3 linked regions of the Homo sapiens genome follow. The protein of the gene in region 2 binds, or shares a complex with, the protein of the main gene of each other region. Each region holds a gene or a part of one and is shown on either strand. Other genes may lie near its edges.

Region 1 (7,864 bases), on a different chromosome or scaffold from region 2:
TTGAGACATGTCTTAGTTAATTAATTAATTTATTTATTTATTTGAGACGAAGTTTCGCTCTTGTTGCCCAGGCTGGAATGCAATGGCGGGGTCTGGGCTCACTGCAACCTCCGCCTCCCCAGTTCAAGCGATTCTCCTGCCTCAGCCTCCAGAGTAGCTGGGATTACAGGCGCCGGCCACCACGCCTGGCCAGTTTTCGTATTTTTAGTAGAAATGAGGTTTCACCATGTTGGTCAAGCTGATCTCAAACTGCTGACCTCAAGTGATCCTCCCCCCTCAGCCTCCCAAAGTACTGGGATTACAGGCCTGGCAGTCTCAGTTAATTTAGAAAGTTTGTTTTACCAAGGCTGAGGACTAGCTGGTGACACAGCCTCAGGAAGTTCTGATGACTTGTGCCCAAGGTGGTTGGGACATAGCTGGTTTTTTACATTTTAGGGAGATATGAGACATCAATCAATATATGTAAGAAATACATTAGTTCCGTCCAGAAAGGTGGAGACTATTTTTCTTTCTTTCTTTTTTTTTTTTTTGAGACGGAGTCTCTGCTCTGTCGCCCAGGCAAAAGAATATTTTTCCATTTACCTATTAATCTTTTTGTTATTGATTTATGCAGTTACTTATATAATCTGGACACAAATCCTTTGACAGATATATGTAACACAAATATTTTCTTCCCCTCTGTAAATTGTCTTTTGACAATTTGCAGAGTGGTCAACAAAAGTTCTTAATTTTAATATTGTCCAACATCTCTTTTTTTTCTTTCATGGTTACCATATTTTATATCTTATTTAAGAAATGCTGGCCAGGTACAGTGGCTCATGCCTGTAATTCCAGCACTTTGGGAGACCGAGGTGGGCTGATCACGAGGTCAGGAGTTTGAGACCAGCCTGACCAACATGGTGAAATCCCGTCTCTACTAAAAATACAAAAATTAGCCAGGCGTGGTGGCGCGTGCCTGTAATCCCAGCTACTCAGGAGGCTGAGGCAGGAGAATAGCTTGAACCCGGGAGGCGGAGGTTGCAGTGAGATCATGCCACTGCATTCCAGCCTGGGCGACAGAGCAGAGACTCCGTCTCAAAAAAAAAAAGAAAGAAAAAAAAGAAATGCTGACTTACTCCACAATCATAAAGATGTTCTCTTATGTTTTCCTCTAAAGACATTTTTTTTTACTTTAACATTTAGATAGGCAATCTATATAGAAATTATTTTTGTGTATGTTGTAAAATAAGGGTCAAAATAATTTAGGGGGTATGGATATTCAAATGGTGTTTATTTATTGAAATCAACATCATTTCCTTCACTGTATTACAGCATCATCTTTGTTATATACATTATGTGTGTGAATCACTTTCTGAACGCTGTGTTGTTTCATTGGTTGCCCTATGTTATCTGTGTCAATTCCACTCTGATATAATAACTATCTTTAAAATAGGTCTTAGATTGGGTAATACAATCCTCCACCATTATTCTTTAAGATTGACTTTGCTATCCTTGGCTCTTTGCACTTCCAAGTTGACTTTAAAAAGTCATCTTGTCATTTTCTATACTCACAAAACCTGCTGGGATTTTGTTTTAGAACTGTAGAATGTTTTGAGAAATGTTGACATCTTTACAATATGAGCCTTCCAATTCATAAGCATGGTATGTTTCCATTTATTTAGATCTTCTTCAATTTCTTTCAGTAAAATTTTATAGTTTTTAATATTGAGGTCTAGAAGATCTTTTGTTAGATTTATTCCTAAATCTATTTATATAAATAAATATATAAATGTATTCCTTAGATTTCCCTTTTCTATTTCTTTGTGACTGATGTTTGATACAATTTATTTTTGTGTATTTTAATTTAGAGAACTTGTTAAATATATGTTCCCTTTTAATTTCATATTTTCCTCTTCTCTCTGACTATATTAGATTCTATTAACTTAGAGCAGCAGTCTACTTTTGTGTATATATAACTAAAACTTTATCATATGTCATAATAAATGTTTTCTGATGTTGTAATCACTAAGGACACAAATATTCTTTACTCATCACTGATACTTAGATTCTTTCACTTTTATTGTTTGTCTCAGAATAGTTGGTGCTCATTTCTGTCTGGGAGGTGCTTTCTTTTTATCTCTTCTCTTTCTCCTTCTATCTGATGTTAGCAAAATAATAGGATTTAAGAGCCATCTTAATATTATATAAATGGCTCAAGACTATGCCTTGGGAGCCTAGGGTTCCAGTCCTTGCTTTGTCCCTTCTGAGTTCCTCTGAAATAGAATAGGAGAGAATTTATGACCAGTGTTTCCCAAATTCCTAGCGTAAGAATTGCTAGAGGTGCTCGTTGAAAACAAAGATTCTTAGATCCCTACCGAGATCTACTGAATTGGAATTTCCAAAGGAAAATGATTCTTATCCTCAGGGAAGTTTCACTCACATAGGACAAGATTAAGATTCCTTCCATCTCTGATATTATTCGATTCTGTGAATACTATCATTATACTGCCATAATCAAAAGAAGAATTTTGTCTAAACAAAGGAGTGTCAGAAAACCACTGCCAATACTCCAAAGTTTAGTATTTGGGATACCTATGAGCACAAATAAATTGGTACATTGCATACAGGTGCTATTCCATCTACTCTGCCAGATCAAGGAAAGCCACAACATAAGTGGATCTTCAAGGCATCTGTGCCTCTGCTAGTTAACTTGACTAGTAACTTCTGACCATTTATTTTCCAGCCAAAGTCATTAACCAAACCAATTCAGAAATGGCAGTGCTTCCTGAAAGAATAACTATACCTTAATTATTAATGCCACAGTCAGAAATGAAGCTGGACTCTTCTTTGGGTAAAGGTTGGTGGGAGACAGTAGAAATGAGGGGTGTAATAGAAGCTGAGAAGATATGGTCAAAGTCTGAGTTAAAGTTTAGAGAGGAAAAGACAGTTTATCCTGGCCCTATTTGTCAATAAATTATTTGAATAGTTAAAGTAAAAATTTTGTGAGGGATAGAGTTATAGGTTTTCTCTCTTGTATTTTCAAATAAAATAATTCATTCTGATGTTGCCTGACCTTGTTGATTTAGTCTTCATTTTTCTTATTTCTTTTATAGCTCTCTAGCCTTTCTTTTCCCTTTTCTTTTGACAAACAACTAGAGGGGCACCATGCTCTTTTCTTATCCTTTTACTTCTTTGGCTTGACAAAAATAACACAGCATAAAATGCACCTAGCATTATGATGTTTGTTCTTGTTCCTCTTCTGATAAGGACTAAATGTATAATTAAGGAAAATGGTGTTCACAACAGTACCTAGAAAGTAACTGGTTCACAATTTTTGCTCAAATTAAATTTTATTTATTAAATGAAAGAATAGATTAATCTTGAAGTGAGAAAATGAAAATATAAGGAGTGACTTTAGCAAAGAAGAACAATGGTTCCCAAATGTATATCACCAATCCTTTTCTCTCATTTTCTTTAGCCCCACCTCTTTAATTGCTTATAGGCTATTTCTAGCTGAACTTTTATGATGTTGAAAACAAAAGTCTCCTTCCTTCCTTCCTTTCTTTTCTTTTCTTTCTTTCCTTTCTTTCCCTTCTTTTCTTTCTTTCTTTCCTTTCTTTCCCTTCTTTTCTTTCTTTCTTTCAAGTCTTGCTCCGTCGCCCAGGCTGGAGTGCAGTGGTGGGGTCTCGGCTCACTGCAACCTCTGCCTCTTGGGTTCAAACGATTCTCCTGCCTCAGCCTCCTGAGTAGCTGGGACTACAGGCGCGTGCCACCACACCCAGCTAATTTTTGTATTTTTAGTAGAGATGGGGTTTCACTATGTTGGCCAGGCTAATCTTGAACTCCTGAGCTGTGATCAGCCCACCTCGGCCTCCCAAAGTGTTGGGATTACAGGCGTAAGCCTCTGCACCCAGCCAAAACTCACCATCTTTCTTATCTTCCAAACTCAGTTTTATGATGACTTTCCTTCTCCAATGCATTTTAATCCTCTGCATTCCTACATTCCATTTATGTAACCTCCATACCTGAATAATGACTGACACTAACTCCACTTTTCCCAGCTGTCATGGCATAGTGAAAATTCCAGATCTGCCACTTAGTGGACAGGTACTTTGAACAAATTTCTTAACCTCTGGGAACATTACTTTCTATAAAATGGGGATAGTAATATGAATTAGAATAAATATATATGTTATAGATATACAACATAGATGTAATTCATATATATTAACCTTTCAATAGTAGATGTTCAATAAATTACAGCTATTGTTACCCTGAAATCAGTTTTTCTTTTTTTTTTTTTTTGGAAATGGAGTTTCGCTCTTGTTGCCCAGGCTGGAGTGCAATGGTGCAATCTCAGCTCACCGCAACCTCCGCCTCCCAGGTTCAAGTGATTCTTCTGCCTTAGCCTCCTGAGTAGCTGGGATTATAGGCGCCCGCCACCACACCCAGCTAATTTTTTTTTTGTATTTTTAGTAGAGACGGGGTTTCACCATGTGGGCCAGGCTGCTGACCTAAAACGATCCGCCTGCCTGGGCCTTCCAAAGTGCTAGGATTATATGCGTGAACCACCGCGCCTGACCATGGAATCAGTTTTTCAATCTGTGCTCGAGGTGTTGTGTTCTTAACTATCTTCTACTCCTTTGCAAAGATAATCTTTCTTAAACATAGACTTTCTAATCAGTTCTCTAGCATTGTTTCATTCTGTCTTTGGCATGTTTTCACTTTGCTGTGCTGTACTTTTACACATTCTTTTTAACTATAGCTTCCTGCTTTGCTCTGGATCAGGAAGCTATTGAAGCTGACACCCACAGAGTTAAACTGAGTTGCTGAAGCCACCAGCTCCCCCTCCCAGTCCTTCTTTTCAGAGTAGGCTGGCAGCTGTCCTAACTGCCTACTAAAGCCAAATGCTTGAGGAGAGAGAGAGAGTAAGGAGCCAGCCATGAATCCTTTCCAGAAAAATGAGTCCAAGGAAACTCTTTTTTCACCTGTCTCCATTGAAGAGGTACCACCTCGACCACCTAGCCCTCCAAAGAAGCCATCTCCGGTGAGTCCTTAGATTCAATCCTGCCTCTGAGAGGAATGGCCTCCCTCTTTTGGCTCTCTTCCTTGGGCTCTGGAGCTTCCAGCTGAGCTGTATTAGGGTATTAAAATGCTTCTCTCTTGGATTTAGAATTCACCTGAAACCAAATCTAAACAGAAGCTTCCTTTACATAAGAAGACAAAGCAGCAGGAAGAGGTAGTCAAAGTTCTTCAGTTGGGATCCAGGGACTTGCTGAATTTCATTGCATATTCTGTTTCCCTGGGGGAAAAAAGCAATTCGAATGTCCAGGGAAACTTGGCAAGCATTCTTGTCTGAAGAACTGTGTGTGATTGTTCTTTCTTTACCAATATAAAAACTCTGCCCTTAGTTCTCCCTGTGTGCAGAGTCTTCTGCTGAACACCAATGGAAGTTTCAGAATAGATCCAATTTCTGTTACTATGTGTTCCCAGTTTACTGTGGGAGATAGGACAGAGAAACAGAGAATAGTAATGTTTTGCATTTATATACTCGCTAAAGCACTTCTAAACTCATCATCTCAGTCAATTCTTACACTAAAATTCTGTAAGTGGGGAGGATATAGTAATGATAGCCAAAATTTACTGAGTTCTTACAGTGGGCCAAAAGGTGATGTTATTCTCATTTCTTTGGAATAACAGAACAGAGGTTTTGAGACAGGTGTAGTGACAATGCCAGTATCAGTATGTTAACACAGCCAGTGGCAGTGTTGCCTAACTAGCTAACAGTGTGTCGGCTAAACTCCAGATTGCATAATTCTCAAGCTGTGAGCTGCAAAGGTAAGAAGCCCAGTTCATTGTATGTTTCAAACAAGCTATTATAAAACATTAAAATATATTAATATTTAGGAGGATCATTTATATATATCCCTAGGGTTAAAAGAATAATACATTACTTTATTATTTTGCCTATTTTTTTAGTTAATGATATCTCTTCTGGTCCCAAAGAATTTAGGGCTACTTGCAAAGATGTATATACTTCTCATGAAATGAGGCAATATAAATCTTACAAGATTTGACTGTACTGAGGACAGATACCTCTATGTCTCTTCTCATGTTAGTTGGTCTATTGTAATAGATAGGGAATTAAAATAAAACATAACATTCCTTATATTCTGACTGATATATTACATGAAAAGCATAATTCTTTTAATGTCCAGTAGGATTATCATGAAAATGTTATAGAATCTCTTTAGTAGGAAGAGTAGACATTTAATTTTACAGGATTTAAGAACTCTGCCTAAAGTCAAGGTGATCAATTAGCTTACCCTTAGGAATCTCTGTCCTCCATGTTGGGCTCTGTGCCTGACTCCAGCAGCCTCTGAAGTAGAAGCTATCATATTGCCAGGATTCCTCCCAGCATGGCAAACAGAACAGCTGGGGACAAGAGTCCCCATAGTGGGGCTAAGCAGAGACTGACATCTGAATCTCACTGCTTGGATATCAGGTATTCCATAGGCTACCTCTTTATTCTGTTCCTAGGAAGTAAATATCACCATTCTTCTGCCCCAGAGCCCTAGGCTTTTCATTTAGTAGTTGTGGGAAGATGAGCAGGTCCAAGGAATATTTGAGCAAGTCCATGTAAAATAAATAAGAAACAAAATAATATTCAGAGTAGCTTCTATTATTTCTAAATCAGTAATATAAGCACTTTTAGTGTTACCTAATAGGTGTGTCATGAAGAGTAGAGACCATTGCTCCATTACCTACCAAGATGATTTGAAATAAATGAATTTTTCAGTTTTGAAGAAATCTAATTGTTGAAACAGGGAAAAACAGCTCATGCTTGAATCATTGCCTTCTTGTTGAATAGACAATCTGTGGCTCCAACTATCCACTGAGCATTGCCTTCATTGTGGTGAATGAATTCTGCGAGCGCTTTTCCTATTATGGAATGAAAGGTAATTTTGTGTCCAAGAGTCCTACCTACTCTCCTCCACCCACCCTCACCCCATGTTTGTGACAGCCTGGTCTCTTTATATGCACTTATTTCCCGAGTCCACTCTTTCTGCCTTGGTCCAAATTGGTCCTTTACTTTGGCCAAGACTTCCAATAAATCTCTCATAGGATTTCACCTAATATGTAGGCCAAGATCAGAAAGGCCTGAGACAAACCAGAACATAGACTTTGAGAATGGGTAAGTGGGTGGAGCTGGGCATGATGGCATGTGCCTGTAGTCGCCACTACTTGGGAGGCTGAAGCAGGAGGATTGCTTGGGCCCAGGAGTTCAAGGTTATCAGGCACCTGTAATTGTGCCAGTGAATGGCCACTGCACTCCAGCCTGGGCAACATAGCAAGAACTCATCTCCAAAAAAAAAAAAAAAAAAGGGGGGGGAGGGAAAGCTCTCATTATCTCAGTTACATTTTTCATACCTGTTCCTCAGGTATGAGCTAACAGCTCTTGGCTAAGGGCTCATACCTGAGGAACAGGTATGAAGAATGGAATTCAGATAAGAGGTCTTATCATCTTGTTGCTGGGAAGGAGAGGAGAGGGAAGGGATATTGGAAGCACCATGTTATGTTCATGGTTGGCCTAAATGATGCTAGGGGTGCACATAGACTGAAGGGAGGAGTATTATATTTGTACATTCAACATAGTCCCATTCACTCCCACAACTCCCATGGGGCCCTGCTTCTACTGCCTGGCAGTCACTTCTCAGTCATGTCACTGATAGGAGTGCTGAAGGCCAAAATCACATTATAAAGACCAGAGATTAAATATTTTTTTCCATAAGTCACTTTAATGCATCTATCTTGTTTTGTCTCCCCACGCCTCCTTTTTTTTCCCACTACAGCTGTGCTGATCCTGTATTTCCTGTATTTCCTG
Region 2 (7,055 bases):
AATAAATTCCTCCAAAGGTATGCAGAGTACACAGTCGCCTCTTAAGGTGGGATGAGGCCAGAGTAACAGAGAGAGTGGAAAGGGAGACTGTCATAAATATTGACTCTAGACAGGGAGAGAAAACCACTGGAGCTTAAAATTCCAGGCTCAGAGTAAGTTAATGAGCTACTAAAAAGACAAGGTAGTAGGACATGCATACTAGGACAATCAGACCTGAAGTTGGAGGAAAAATGTGAGGATACCCACTGAGCCAGGCAGACTGGTATAGTAGAAAGGGCATTGGCCACAAAAGCAAAAGCACAGAGTTTTTAGCCATGTTTCTGCCTGAGGGGGCTTTGGCTAAGTCACTTCACCTCTCTGAGTCTTTGTTTTATAATAAAGAAAAATTGAGATGATACAATTCAATAACAACAAAAACAACTTGATTTTAAAAATGGGCAAGCAAATTGAATAGACATTTATCTAAAGAAGATACAAATGGCCAGTAAGCACGTGAAAAGATGCCCAACATCATGAATCATTAAGGAAATGCAAATCAAAACCACAATGAGATGTCACCTCAAACCCATTAAAATGGCCATCAATTAAAAAACAAACAAACAAAAAACAGAAAAGAACAAGTGTTCATGGGAATGTGGTGAAATTGGAACCTTTCTATGTTGCTGGTGAGAAAGCAAAATGGTGCAGCCACCGTGGAAAACAGTATGGTGTATGGTGGTTCCTTAAAAAATTAAATGTATGATCCAGCAATTCCTTTTCTGGGCAAATACCCAAAAGATTTGAAAACAGGGACTTGAACAAATATTTGTACATCCATTTTCATGGCAGCATTATTGACTGCAGCCTAAAGGTGGTAGCAATCCATTCCTTGATGGACGAATAAATAAAATGTGATGTATGTACACAGTGGAATATTATTCACCCTTCAAAAGGAAGGAAATTCTGACATGTGCTACAACATGAATGAACTTTGAAGACATTTGCTAAGTGAAATAAGCCAGTCACAAAAGGACAAATAGCATATGATTCCACACATAGAAGGTGCTTAGAGTAGTCAAATTTGTAGAAACAAAGTAGAAAGGTAGTTGCCAGGGGCTGGGGAGGAAGGAATAGAAAATCGTGTTTAACGGCTACACAGTTTCACTTTGGGAAGATGAAAAAGTTCTGGAGATGGATGGTGGTGATGGTTGCCCAATAGTGTGAAAGTACTTAATGCCACTGAATTGTATAATCAAAATGATTAAAATGATAATTTTTTTGTTATGAATATTTTACCACAATTTAATTTTTTTTTTTTTTGAGACAGGGTCTCGCTCTGTAGCCCAGGCTGGCGTGCAGTGGCATGATCGTGACTCACTGCAGCCTTGACCTCACAGGCTCAATCAATCCTCCTGCCTCAGTCTCCTGAGTAGCTGGGACTACAGGTGCACACCACCACACCCAGCTAATTTTTGTATTTTCTGTAGAGATGGGGTTTCACCATGTTGCCCAGGCTGGTCTCAAACTCCTGGACTCAAGCATTCCTCCCGCCTCAACCTCCCAAAGTGCTGAGATTATAGGCATGAGCTACCGTGCCCAGCCAATTTTTAAAAATTGGAGAGATCAAAGCTTCCTGACCAGATTGCTCAGGTGTGCCACATGTAGGTTATTGGCATGCCAAGATATTGATCCCTTTCATTTTTGAATAGATCATGCAGAGCTGAGCACAGCTGAAATCCTCAGGCAGGTCACTGGAAGAGCTTCTTCTTACTCCAGTATGCTATACACATATTGTAATGTTTAAAATTTCAATATAATTTAATTATTATTTATACAGAATAAGTGCATGAAACAAAAATGCATAGCTCGGTAATTAATCTTAAACACCTGTGTAACCTTCACTTAGCTCAAGAACTAGAATATTGCCAGCATACCAGAAGTTAGGGTCGTGTGTTACCACCTAAGCAGGAATCCCCCAAAGTTCTGCCCTATATTTGGACATCATGTAAATGGAATCCTAGTATGAAAATGAATGAACTACAGCTACTCACAGCAACGTGAGTGAACCTCACAAACATCATATTGAATGAAATAAACCAGAGACAAAAGGAATACACCAGGCCTGTAATCCCAGTACTTTGGGAGGCCAAGGCGGGAGGATCACTTGAGGTCAGGAGTTCGAGACCAGCCTGGCCAACATGGTGAAACCCTGTCTCTACTGAAAATACAAAAAATTAGCCAGGCATGGTGGCGGGCACTTGTAATCCCAGCCACTCGGGAGGCTGAGGCAGGAGAATCACTTGAACTCAGGAAGCGGATGTTGCAGTGAGCTGAGATTGCACCACTGCATTTCAGCCTGGGCTGTAACAGAGTGAGACTCCATCTCAAACAACAACAACAACAACAGCAATTTTTAAAAATTTCTAAAAACCATACAATAACAACTATTTATACATGATGAAGGTGAGACCCAGAGAGTTAAAAATGAATTACTCTGGATCAAACACCTGGGAAATGGGAAATGGTGGCGTCAGAATTGAACTCAGGTGTTCTTTCTTTCTTTTTTGTTTTGTTGTTTTTTTTTTGGAGACAGGGTCTCGCTCTGTCATTGAGGCTGGAGTGCAGTGGCATGATCACGGCTCACTGCAACCTCTGCCTCTCAATCAAGTGATCCTCCCACCTCAGCCTCCAGAGTAGCTGGGACTACAGGCATGCACCACCATGCCTGGCTTTTTGTACCTTTTGTAGAGACAAGGTTTTGCCATGTGGCCCAGGCTGGTTTCGAACTCTTGAGCTCAGGCAATCTGCCCGCTTTGGCCTCACAAATTGCTGGGATTGCGATGAACTCAGGTGTTCTGATCCTAAATCCAGATTTTCCCATTCTACCTTCTGCTTTGAAAGATATAGAGGAGGCCAGGAGGGCTTAGCCCCGAGGTGGAGGAAGATAAGCTGGTATGAGGAAGCTGCTCAATGTCATTTTAAACCGTTTATCCATGGGCTCAGGTCATGTCTTTGTTGGGGGCCAAGCCAAGGCCCAGCAAAGACAAATGGCTCTTCCAGTGTGGGTGGAAGAGGGGTGAGGTCACCCAGTCCTCGGCCTGTGGTTTGCTTTGCCTCAGTGCCGGGAGCAATCTCTTGCCCTGATTTGCATTGTGGGCTGAGGATTCAGGTCAGTGAGAAGGCCAGTGATAGAATTGTCTGTGTGGGTGCTGCTGATAGGGATCAGCTGCTGATCATGGCTAGGGCTAGCGGCTGAGCACACGGGCACCAGCCTACTGCTCGGGCAGCAAGGCAGCAGGATGGAGGGGTTTGTAAAAATGCCTTCCACCTACCCTGCTGGGCTTGCCCGAGAGGCTCTGAGTGTGTGAAGGGGAAGACAATTATCGCTAGGCTGGAGAATAGAAAGAGCACCATCAGGTGAGAAAGAGAAGAAAAAAAGAGAGGGGAGAGAGTGGATAAGAAGAAGGAAGCCTGGGACACAAGAACAAGGGCTTTGCTTGCTCTAGGGCTTTGCTTGCTAAACTCCTAGGGAGCACACAAGTGAGAATCCAGGGCAGAGGGAAGCAGGATGGGTGCCCTGAGTGCTTGGCCCCATTTCCTGGGGCTTACTGGCCTCGTGGGTGGGAGTTTTATAGGCTACTGCTCCTTGGGGAGGCCTCAGTGATTGAGGATACTCCTGTATGAGCCTCGGCCCTGACCCCAGGATGGGGGACTGGAGGATCCTAACAGGATTGGGGGTTGGTTGGGTGTAACCAAGGTATCTGCCAAAGGGAGAGTACCAAGGAAAGCGGAGGCACCTCCTCCCTGGCTGTCCTTCACCCCCTCTCCCCTCCTTGTTCTCTGGGAGTGGCTGGCGAGCAGCGGCCTCCCCGCAGGGCCAGGCAGGTGGGCCAGAGCTTTTGGTTTGCTGAGGTTTGTCAGATTTTCCAGCTCAGGGCCCAGCCAGCTGGCAGGAAGCAGGACAGAGGTCACTTGAATTCAGACCACATGTCCCTGTTAAATACATTAGCTTTTAAATCAATCTTTGTTCAAAGTCCAGTGAGTTGCAAGCTTAATGCTCACCTGCAGAGACAGAATTCCTGAGTGAACGAACAGAGCAGCTCCTCTTCCATCTCCAGGTAAGAACTGCTCGTGTCCTCCTTGAGGGTGCTGGCCACCGGGGCCTGAACTACCTTCTTTCTTTTCCTTTTCCCTTTTTCTTTTTCCAAGCCAGTAGCTGGCTGTCTAGGGCAGAGAAGAGTCCCATGGGGAGGCAGCCAGGCCCCTTTGGCGGTGGTTGGGGGTGAGAGATGATCCACGCTCTGAGATTCTTTCTGCTGGAGATGCCCCTCACCTTTGTAGGCTAGGGTCTGCTTCACAAAGAAATTGGTAAACCGACCTCAGAAAAAGCCTTCCCGGGGTTGTGTGGGGGTTTGATGTGCAGCCAAAGGGAGTGAGACAACTGACTTCACAGGTAACCAGGCGGATATGCCCGGGACCTTCCTACTGATACAGGGGCCTTGGGTAGCAGAGAAGACTCTTCTGGAAGCAGCCTTTAAAGGATGCAGCCTAACTTAGCTTGCCCACTAGATAATAAAAGCAGGCATCTTTCCTCTCTGTATCACACTGCAGCACTAAGACATGAGAAAAACCAGTGGATTTCCAGGCTGGCTGAATTTTAAAACATACATTCCCCAGGCTCTCACCTTTGGCATTTCTAAGTCTCCAGGCCTTGTGTGAATTGAAAGATCTTTATTTGAAAACTCTCCCAGAATCATTCTGATCAGTGCAGGTAGGTTTGGGAACCACTAGTAGTTTATTTCTTAAGCAGAAGACTCATGAGACTTAAGTATGACACTTACCTAAGGGTTCACTCGCTATGAAGACTCCTGGTCTGGGTTGGGTCCAGCTATGAAGATTTGGGCGTTGGCTCTGAGAAACACATTCTTCTTTATTTACTAAAATCTCTGCAATGTGTCACCAGGGCAGCTTTCAGTCTTGTATCTAGAAGGCAAGAGGGGGTAGCAGGGACTGCCTCAGGCCATGATTGTCCAGTCATCTGAAGTCTGCAGCAAATTACTCAGGGTCTTTGAATTTCTGTGTTATGATAGTAACTTGTGCTTATCTTTGACTTTTGTATGTTCTCTGCACCATAGGGTGTGAAGTTGCTGGTAATGATGTCTTATATTCATAGACCACTGGCTAGGCAGCTACTTCTCCCCCAGGGGAAAGAACATAGGACTGGAATACAAATCATCAGAGTTTTGATTCAGTTGCTAGTGACAGGCCATTAGACAAACTACTTAGCCAACTGGAGCCTCAATTTCATTATTGATCAAGTGAAGGTCTGTCATCTTTTCCCCAAGAGTGTACTGAAAATAAAATTATAAGTACAAATGTGTGGTCCTGCATGGTGGCTCATGCCTGTAATCCCAGCACTTTGGGATGCCCAAGCGGGAGGATCACTTGAGGCCAGGAGTTCGAGACCAGCCTGGGCAATGAAGTGAGACCCCCGTCTCTACAAAAAATAATAATAAATTAATCCTGCATGGTGGCATGTGTCTGTGGTGTCAGCTACTTGGGAGGCTGAAATGGAAGGGTTGCTTGAGCCCAGGGGGTCGAGGCTACAGTGAGCCGTGATTGCATCACTGCACTCCAGCCTGGGTGACAGACTGAGATCCTGTCTAAAAAACAAAAAACCATGAATATGTTAAAAACACGATGTAAGATGCCTAGATTTCAAATGTGTATATCGAAAGTCTCTGTAGAATAGTAAGAAGAAACAAATTGCAGTCACTTGGGAAACCTTGTCCTAGTCTTTTAATCTCATTGAGCCTCTGTTTGCTCACTTACAAATAAGAAGTTGAGACCAGATCATCATTAATGTCTTTTTCAGTTGGCCAAGTATAAGGTAGATCCTGGAGCCTTGAAGGGTAGCTCCTTGTCATTGGGGTATGAATTAAAATGTCACCTCCCAGGAAGGACTTTCTAAATCAGCCTCCCACCTCCATGCCACCAGTATCTCTATCATTCACAGCGTGTACCATCAGAAATCATCTCATTTGGGCTGGGTGCAGTGGCTCACATCTGTAATCCCAGCACTTTGGGAGGCTGAGGCAGGTGGATCACCTGAGGTCAGGAGTTCAAGACCAGCTTGGCCAACATGGTGAAACCCCATCTCTACTAAAAATACAAAAATTAGCCGGGCGTGGTACTGCCTGTCTGTAGTATTAGCTACTTGGGAGGCTGAGGCAGGAGAATTGCTTGAACCTGGGAGGTGGAGGTTGCAGTGAGCCAAGATTGTGCCATTGCACCCTAGCCTGGGTGACAAAGTGAGACTCCATCTCGAGAAAAAAAAAATCATCTCTTTTACTTGTCACCTTTGCCAGATGTTAAGCTTCAAGACTGCAGGGATCTTGTCATTTGTGTTACTTGCTGTATTACCAGCCCCTTGAGCACTACCTGGCATAGAACATATTTGCATAAATGGAATTAGTGTGGCAGGGAAGGAGCTAGAAGAATAGATGCAGATGGCGATGGCTTTGATGAGGTGTTCCTCAGGAAAGGAGGTTGAAGGACTCCAATCCTCTCTCAGGGCATCTGAAGTCCAGGGTCTAATCATATGGGAATGGGTTTCTCTGGTCACTTCTTAGTGAAATGATTCTTGCATTCGTTGCATAGGGATGCAATGAGAGTGGCAAGCTGGAGCTAGACGTGTTTTCCTCAAGATCTCAGCAACTTCTTTCTTTGGTCCTTCATGAGGGACTGCCCAGATTTCCTTAATCTCTTTGCCTGATGGGTATCATGGCTAAGTGATTAAGAAAATGAGCACTGGGATTGGAAACCTGCACTCTAGATCAGGCTCTCTAAGCTTCTATTTCCTTGTCAGTCAAATGGGCATATTAGAACCTAGTTCCGGAAGTTATGAGGGTTAAATGAATGCACATAGTGTCTAGCACATCTTAAGTGCTATTGAGATAATCTTCAGACAGCTTTGCTATTACATGACCCCCGGAAATGAAGGAACCCAGGGAATGGCAGGAGTTTTGGAAAGTAGAAAAGATAGCCCTAGCCCACTTAGTGGCAACTAGAGAAGG
Region 3 (7,024 bases), on a different chromosome or scaffold from region 2:
GGCTGGTTTTGAACTCCTGACCTCAGGTGATCAGCCCGCCTCGGCCTCCCAAAGTGCTGGGATTACAGGCATGAGCCGTCATCCCTGGCTGGTGGTTTCTTATGACGTGAAACATGCAATTACCATATGACCTAGCAGTTGCACTCTGTATTTATCCCAGATAAATGAAAACTTACCTTCCAATAAAAACCTGTGCACAAATGTTCATAGCAGCTTAATATTGAAAAACTGGATGTTCTTCAGCAGGTGAATGAACTGGTTCATTCATACCATGGAATACCATTCAGCAATAAAAAGGAACAAACTGTTGATACATTTAACCACCTGGATGAATATCAAGGGAATTATGCTGTCAGACAAAAACCAGTCCCTAAAGACTACATATAGTATGATTCCGTTTGGATAATATTCTTGAAATAGAGAAATTAAGAGAAATGAAAAGATTAGTGTTTGCCAGATGTTAGAGACAGGGAGGTGAGAGGGGTAAGTGGGTGTAGTTATAAAAGTGCAACATGAGGGATCTTTGTGATGTTGAAGTTGTATCTTGGCAGTGGATGCAGAAATCTCAATGTGATAAAATTACAAAGAACTAAAAACAAGAATGAGTATAGATAAAACTGGGGAAATCTGAACAAGTTAGAGTGTTGTATCACTGTCAGTATCTTAGAGTGATATTGTACTATAGCTTTGCAAGATGTTACCATGGGAGAAACTAAAGTGTACAAGGGATCTCTAGGTATTATTATTTTTTTAGAGATGGGGTTTCACTATGTTCCCCAGGCCGGTCTTGAACTCCTGGGCTCTAGTGATCCGCCTGCCCCAGCCTCCTAAAGTACTGGAATTACAGGCGTGAGCGACCATGCCTGGCCCTTTCAGTATTGTATCTTAGAACTTCATGTGAATCTAGCATTATCTCATAGAATTTAATTAAAAGAAATTGTAAACCTCACAGAAGATCAGAATTTCCTCAAGTTTGTGATGTTGACAAAGATGAACTAGTTGACACTGACAGTAAGACTGAGGATGAAGACACGACGTGCTTCAAAAAAATGATTTGAATATCAATGGATTAAGAAGAACTCTTTTGACAAATTGATGAAACCCTCAGTCAGTTTTATAAGAATGCCCATCTTTATGATCATGCTATGAAAGCCAATTTTTAAAAAAATTTTTTGTCTTTCCTAACAATTAGCTTGTGGTTATAATTTAAATTTAGTTAAATATAAGATAAATGATTTTTTATTAAGTTTAGTTTCATTTTTCAAGGTACGATCTCAAAGCTACTCTTTAACCTACTATGAATGAATAATGCTGAGTTCATAACATCTTTGTAGATATATCCACAATTTTCCCTCAGGATAAGTGCCTACAAGTGGAATTACTGGACTGAAAATAATGCAGTTTGCTAAGACTTTGCTATCTGTTCCTGAATGCTCCTCCAAAAAGGTTTTGCCAGTTTACATCCTCATGACCAGCGAATGAGAGTGTTGCCTATTTTCCTGTGCCCTTGTTACTGCTTAATAATTTTTGAAAAAAATCTAATTTGACAGACAAAAATGCATTTTATGTTAATTTGCTTTTCTGGGATTTTTAATGAGGTTGAGTATAGTTTTTAATATTTTTATTGGCCCCTTTGGAACTAGTATCATAAGTTTTTTTTCTTAAGAATTTATGTAGTCTGGGCTGGGCGCAGTGGCTCACGCCTGCAATCCCAGCACTTTGGGAGGCCGAGGTGGGTGGATTGCCGAAGGTCAGGAGTTTGAGACCATCCTGACCAACATGGTGAAACCGAATCTCTACTAAAAGTACAAAAACTAGCTCAGCGTGGTGGCGGGTGCCTGTAATCCCAGCTACTTAGGAGGCTGAGTCAAGAGAATCGCTTGAACCCGGGAGGTGGAGGTTGGTTGCATTGAGCCGAGATCGCGCCATTGCTCTCCAGCCTAGGCAACAAGAGTGAAAAGTCTCAAAAAAAAAAAAAAAAAAAAAAAAAAGAATTTACATGGTCTGAATTGCCATTAAAAGAGATATGAGAATTATTGAGTAACAAATAACTTTTTAATAATTTAGGCAAGTTTTGGACGATTGTACTTTGTTTAGAAACCAAAAGCATAGTATTTGTAGTTTTTTTATTTACTTTAGTTGCTAGGAAGTAAACTTTATTCAAGGTCTCTGGTACCAGTTGTTGCTAAAAGTGATTGACTAATCTGTCAATCTGAAATTATTTGTTGCTGAACTGCTAATTCTTTTGCTTCTATCTTTTAGGCAGATCTTGTCTGGACTACCAGACTCAAGAGACCAAATCAAGCCTTTCTAAGACCCTTGAACAAGTCTTGCACGACACTATTGTCCTCCCTTACTTCATTCAATTCATGGAACTTCGGCGAATGGAGCATTTGGTGAAATTTTGGTTAGAGGCTGAAAGTTTTCATTCAACAACTTGGTCGCGAATAAGAGCACACAGTCTAAACACAGTGAAGCAGAGCTCACTGGCTGAGCCTGTCTCTCCATCTAAAAAGCATGAAACTACAGCGTCTTTTTTAACTGATTCTCTTGATAAGAGATTGGAGGATTCTGGCTCAGCACAGTTGTTTATGACTCATTCAGAAGGAATTGACCTGAATAATAGAACTAACAGCACTCAGAATCACTTGCTGCTTTCCCAGGAATGTGACAGTGCCCATTCTCTCCGTCTTGAAATGGCCAGAGCAGGAACTCACCAAGTTTCCATGGAAACCCAAGAATCTTCCTCTACACTTACAGTAGCCAGTAGAAATAGTCCCGCTTCTCCACTAAAAGAATTGTCAGGAAAACTAATGAAAAGTGAGTATGTGATTTTCTTGTGTGTACATATGTGTCTCACTTTCTTTTTTTAATTTACTAAGCAGAACTTCAGATGAGGAATAAAATGATTGGAATATTTTTTTTCTCCTCTAACTACTTGTAAATTTGGGAGAATTTGGAGAGTGTAGTAGAGTCAGATCAGTGTATGGAAAAGGAGCAGGAGTGACTGGACCTTCTAAGAAGTGTGTTATCAGAATTAGTAAATGAAGGGTCAAATGTCCTACTTTTCCCCTCCACTGATTTTGACATCAAACCATTATCCACATAGCCTTATTTCCTCCCTCGGTCTTAATTTTATTAATATTTTACTGCACTTTGCAGATAAAATTTTTAAAAAATTTTTAAAAATTGCCAATAAGTGACATTTATTAAGTTCAGTGCTTAGTGTATATTTGGATTTTATTTATTAGTCACAAGACCTTTGTGCAGGTAGTAGGCATGATTATCTTTTTTTTTTTGAGATGGAGTCTTGCTCTGTCGCCCAGGCTGGAGTGCAATGGCGCGGTCTCGGCTCACTGCAACCTCCGGGTTCATGCCATTCTCCTGCCTCAGCCTCCCAAATAGCTGGGACTACAGGCGCCTGCCACCACACCCGGCTAATTTTTTTGTATTTTTAGTAGAGACGGGGTTTCACCATGTTCGCCAGGATGGTCTCGATCTCCTGACTTTGTGATCCGCCTGCCTCGGCCTCCCAAAGTGCTGGGATTACAGGCATGAGCCACCGCGCCCGGACTGATTATCTTATTTACACATGAGAAAACCAGGGCTTAGAAAGGTTAGGTAACTTCCTCTAGGTTGTACAGTAAATGTGGACCTAGAAGCATTTTGACAAGAGCACCTGTTTTTTTTTCTTCTCTATTAGTTTAGAAATTATATACTCTTAATTATCACCTGGGATTTTGATTAGACAGCCTTCATGTTCTTTTTCATCTTAAATGTTCTTTGTGTCTTAAAGGGCTAAGTGATTTCTTCAGATCTTTTAGTTCACTCATTCTCAGTGAACTAAAATGAGGTCTAATCTGCTACTGAATCAAGTTTTCAGCATGTTATTTCCTTCCTCCCTCCCTCCCTCCTTCCTTCCCTCAACCAGGCTCCCGAGGAGCTGGGATTACAGGCGCCCGCCACCACTCCTGGCTAATTTTTATATTTTAGTAGAGACGGGGTTTCACCATGTTGGTCAGGCTGATCTTGAACTCCTGACCTCAAGTGACCCACCTGCCTCGGCCTCCCAAAGTGCTGGGATTACAGGCATGAATCACCACACCTGACGGCATGTTATTTTCATCGCAAAGTTACTGTAAGCTGGGAGAAGTGGCACACACTTGTACTCCCAGCTACTCAGGAAGCTTAAGGTGAGAAGATTGCTTGAGCCCAGGAGTTTTGAGACCAACCTGGGCAACACAGCAAGACCCCAGCTCAAACAAAGAAAAAAAGTTATTGAATTTTTTATTTCTATGGATCATTTTTTGTAGTTTCTTATTCCTTTCACCCTTCATTCCCACTTTTGATCCCATCTTTTATTTATTTAGTTTTATTAAATGTATATTTGTCTGATAATTCTGCTATCTACAGTTTTTTGTGGACCTGACTCAGCATTTCTTTGTTTCTTCGGATTCAGACTGTTGGTGGCTTGTGATTTTAGTGATTTTTGGCCGTGAACATGTTTCTTGGACTTTTGTCTGTGGGAATTCTCTGTGTACTCTGTATAAATTAAGTTACTTCAGGTGTTTTGCATTTTCTTTTGCCATGCACCTGGGGCCTGGGTCACTACCCTTCTGGTACCACTTAAAACTGAATTTTTGTCTTGGGTGCTCGTACTGATCCTGTATGAGTACAGGTTTATACTTACTGTAGAAATATGGTGTTTGATTATGGGGTATTGTCCCAGATGGTGCTGGAGTATTAATATGCTCTCTGTTAAACTTAATGTGTTGTCCCTGTAAAACTCCAAAATTCTGAATTCCAGAATACTACTGGCCCCAAATGTTTAAGATAAGGGCACTGCCTGTATTTGTTTCTGCCTCCCACTATTTTCCTTAGTTTAACACAAACTCACCTTTTTAAAAAACATTTTGAGAGAATTCAGTATTGGGAAGAGTTTCTAACCTGTTTCTGGAAATGGAAGTCCAAAGTCTGTTTCTGTAATTGTTTTTTTTTTGAGATGGAGTCTCACTCTGTCACCCAGGCTGGAGTGCAATGACGTACTCTCAGCTCACTGCAACCTCCACCTCCCGGGTTCAAGCGATTCTCTTGCCTCAGCCCCCTGAGTAGCTGGGATTACAGGTGCCCACCACCATGCCTGGCTGATTTTTGTATTTTTAGAAGAGATGGGGTTTCGCCATGTTGGCCAGGCTGGTCTTGAACTCCTGACTTTGTGATCTGCCCACCTCAGCCTCCCAAAGTGCTAGGATTATGTTTCTGTAATTGTAATACATTTATTGTTTTTAGAAACTGTCTTTGCTTTAGTGGTAATTTTCAATAAAAATAGAAATAGCAGTGGAGTTATTAAAAGAGCATTAGTTACATTTTTCCCTTTTTCATTATCTTCAAATATTATATATAGTAAGTTTGACCTTTTTAAAATGTATACTTGTATCAGTTTTAACACATACATAGATTCCTGTAACTGTCACCACTATAAGGGTAAAGAACAGTTAGTTCCTTCACCTTTGAAGTCAAGCCCCACCTCTATCCCAACACTTGGCAACCGCTGATCTTTCTCCGTCTCAATAGCTTTGCCTTTTCTCTTTTTTTTTCTTATTTTTTTTTTTGAGACAGCGTCTTGCTCTGTCGCCCGAGCTGGAGTGCAGTGAGGCAATCTCGGCTCACTGCAACCTCCGCCTCCTGGGTTCAAGCAGTTCTCCTGCCTTAGCCTCCCTAGTAGCTGGGATTATAGGCACGCACCACCACACCCGGCTGATTTTTTTGTATTTTTAGTAGAAATGGGGTTTCACCATGTTGGCCAGGCTGGTCTCAAACTCTTGACCTCAAGTGATCCACCTGCCTCGGCCTCCCAAAGTGCTGGGATTACAGGCGTGAGCCACTGTGCCCAATCAGGACTTTTTTTTTTTAAATTTACATTCAACTTGTCATTTTTTTCTTGTATGGATTGTGCCTTCAGAGTCACACCTAAGAGCCCTTTGCCTAAGCAAAGGTCATGAAGATTTTCTCATATGTTTCCTTTTAAAAGTATTGTGGTTGGCCAGGTGCCATGGCTTATGCCTGTAATCTCAGCACTTTGAGAAGCTGAGGTGGGCAGATTACGAGGTCAGGAGATCGAGACCATCCTGGCTAATGCGGTGAAACCCCATCTCTACTAAAAATACAAAAAAAAAAAAAAATTAGCCGGGCGTGGTGGCGGGCACCTGTAGTCCCAGCTACTTGAGAGGTTGAGGCAGGAGAATAGTGTGAACCCGGGAGGTGGAGCTTGCAGTGAGCCGAGATCGCGCCACTGCACTCCAGCCTGGGCAACACAGTGAGACTCCATCTCAAAAAAAAAAAAAAAGTATTATGGTTTTACACTTTACGTTTAGATATATATCTTTTTTGAGTTAATGTCGTATAAGTATGAGGGTTACGTCAGATTTTTTGTTTTTTGTTTATTTTTACATATGGATGTCTAGTTGTTCTAATACCATTTGTTGAAAAGACAACCTTTACTCCATTGAATTGCCTTTGTACTTTTGCCATATTTGTCTAGGCCTGTTTTTGGACTCCTTTTTCTGTTTCATGATGTGTGTGTCTATTCCTTTGTTAATACCACATGGTCTTAATTACTGTATAGTAAGTCTTAAAATTGGGTAATGCTGGCCTTATAAAACGAATTGGGAAGTTTTTATTTTTACTCTTATTTCCATTTTCTAGAAGAGATTGTGTAGAATTGGTGTCATTTCTTCTTTAGATATTTGGTTGAATTGGGAAGTGATGCCATCTGGGCCTAGGGTTTTGTTTTTTGTGTGTGAGACAGAGTCTCACTTCTGTCACCCAGGTTGGAGTGCAGTGGTGAGATCTTGGCTTACTGCAACCTCTGCCTCCCAGGTTCAAGTTATCCTCCTGCCTCAGCCTCCCAAATAGCTGGGATTACAAGCGTGTGCCACCATGCCCGACTAATTTTTGTATTTTTAATGCAGACAGGGTTTCACCATGTTAGCCAAGCTGGTCTCGAACTTGTGACCTCAAGTGA

What was found.
Region 1: the proteins of PDZK1 (region 2) and SLC15A2 are in contact, whole or in part, in a crystal structure (PDB 6EZI), measured with the Homo sapiens proteins. Residues at the interface, in NP_001188254.1 of Homo sapiens: Asn386, Gly387, Tyr388, Gly389, Phe390, His391, Leu392, Asn393, Ala394, Ile395, Arg396, Gln407, Tyr436, Glu437, Val440, Ile443, Gln444; in NP_066568.3 of Homo sapiens: Glu723, Thr724, Lys725, Lys726, Thr727, Lys728, Leu729.
Region 3: the proteins of PDZK1 (region 2) and AKAP10 are in contact, whole or in part, in a crystal structure (PDB 3TMH), measured with the Homo sapiens proteins. Residues at the interface, in NP_001188254.1 of Homo sapiens: Asn386, Gly387, Tyr388, Gly389, Phe390, His391, Leu392, Asn393, Ala394, Ile395, Arg396, Phe402, Lys404, Tyr436, Glu437, Val440, Ile443, Gln444; in NP_009133.2 of Homo sapiens: Pro655, Leu656, Glu657, Lys658, Ser659, Thr660, Lys661, Leu662.

Annotation. Positions count from the first base shown.
Region 1 is NC_000003.12:121,889,556-121,897,419, forward strand, and holds the start of SLC15A2 (solute carrier family 15 member 2), read left to right. Parts: upstream 1-4,845; 5' UTR 4,846-4,921; coding exon 4,922-5,026; intron 5,027-6,850; coding exon 6,851-6,938; intron 6,939-7,832; coding exon 7,833-7,864. UniProt on the Homo sapiens protein: Proton-coupled amino-acid transporter that transports oligopeptides of 2 to 4 amino acids with a preference for dipeptides. Transports neutral and anionic dipeptides with a proton to peptide stoichiometry of 2:1 or 3:1.
Region 2 is NC_000001.11:145,704,359-145,711,413, reverse strand, and holds the start of PDZK1 (Na(+)/H(+) exchange regulatory cofactor NHE-RF3), read left to right. Parts: upstream 1-4,045; 5' UTR 4,046-4,097; intron 4,098-4,590; exon of another isoform or gene 4,591-4,750; intron 4,751-7,055. UniProt on the Homo sapiens protein: A scaffold protein that connects plasma membrane proteins and regulatory components, regulating their surface expression in epithelial cells apical domains.
Region 3 is NC_000017.11:19,953,810-19,960,833, reverse strand, and holds part of AKAP10 (A-kinase anchor protein 10, mitochondrial isoform 1 precursor), read left to right. Parts: intron 1-2,262; coding exon 2,263-2,820; intron 2,821-7,024. UniProt on the Homo sapiens protein: Differentially targeted protein that binds to type I and II regulatory subunits of protein kinase A and anchors them to the mitochondria or the plasma membrane.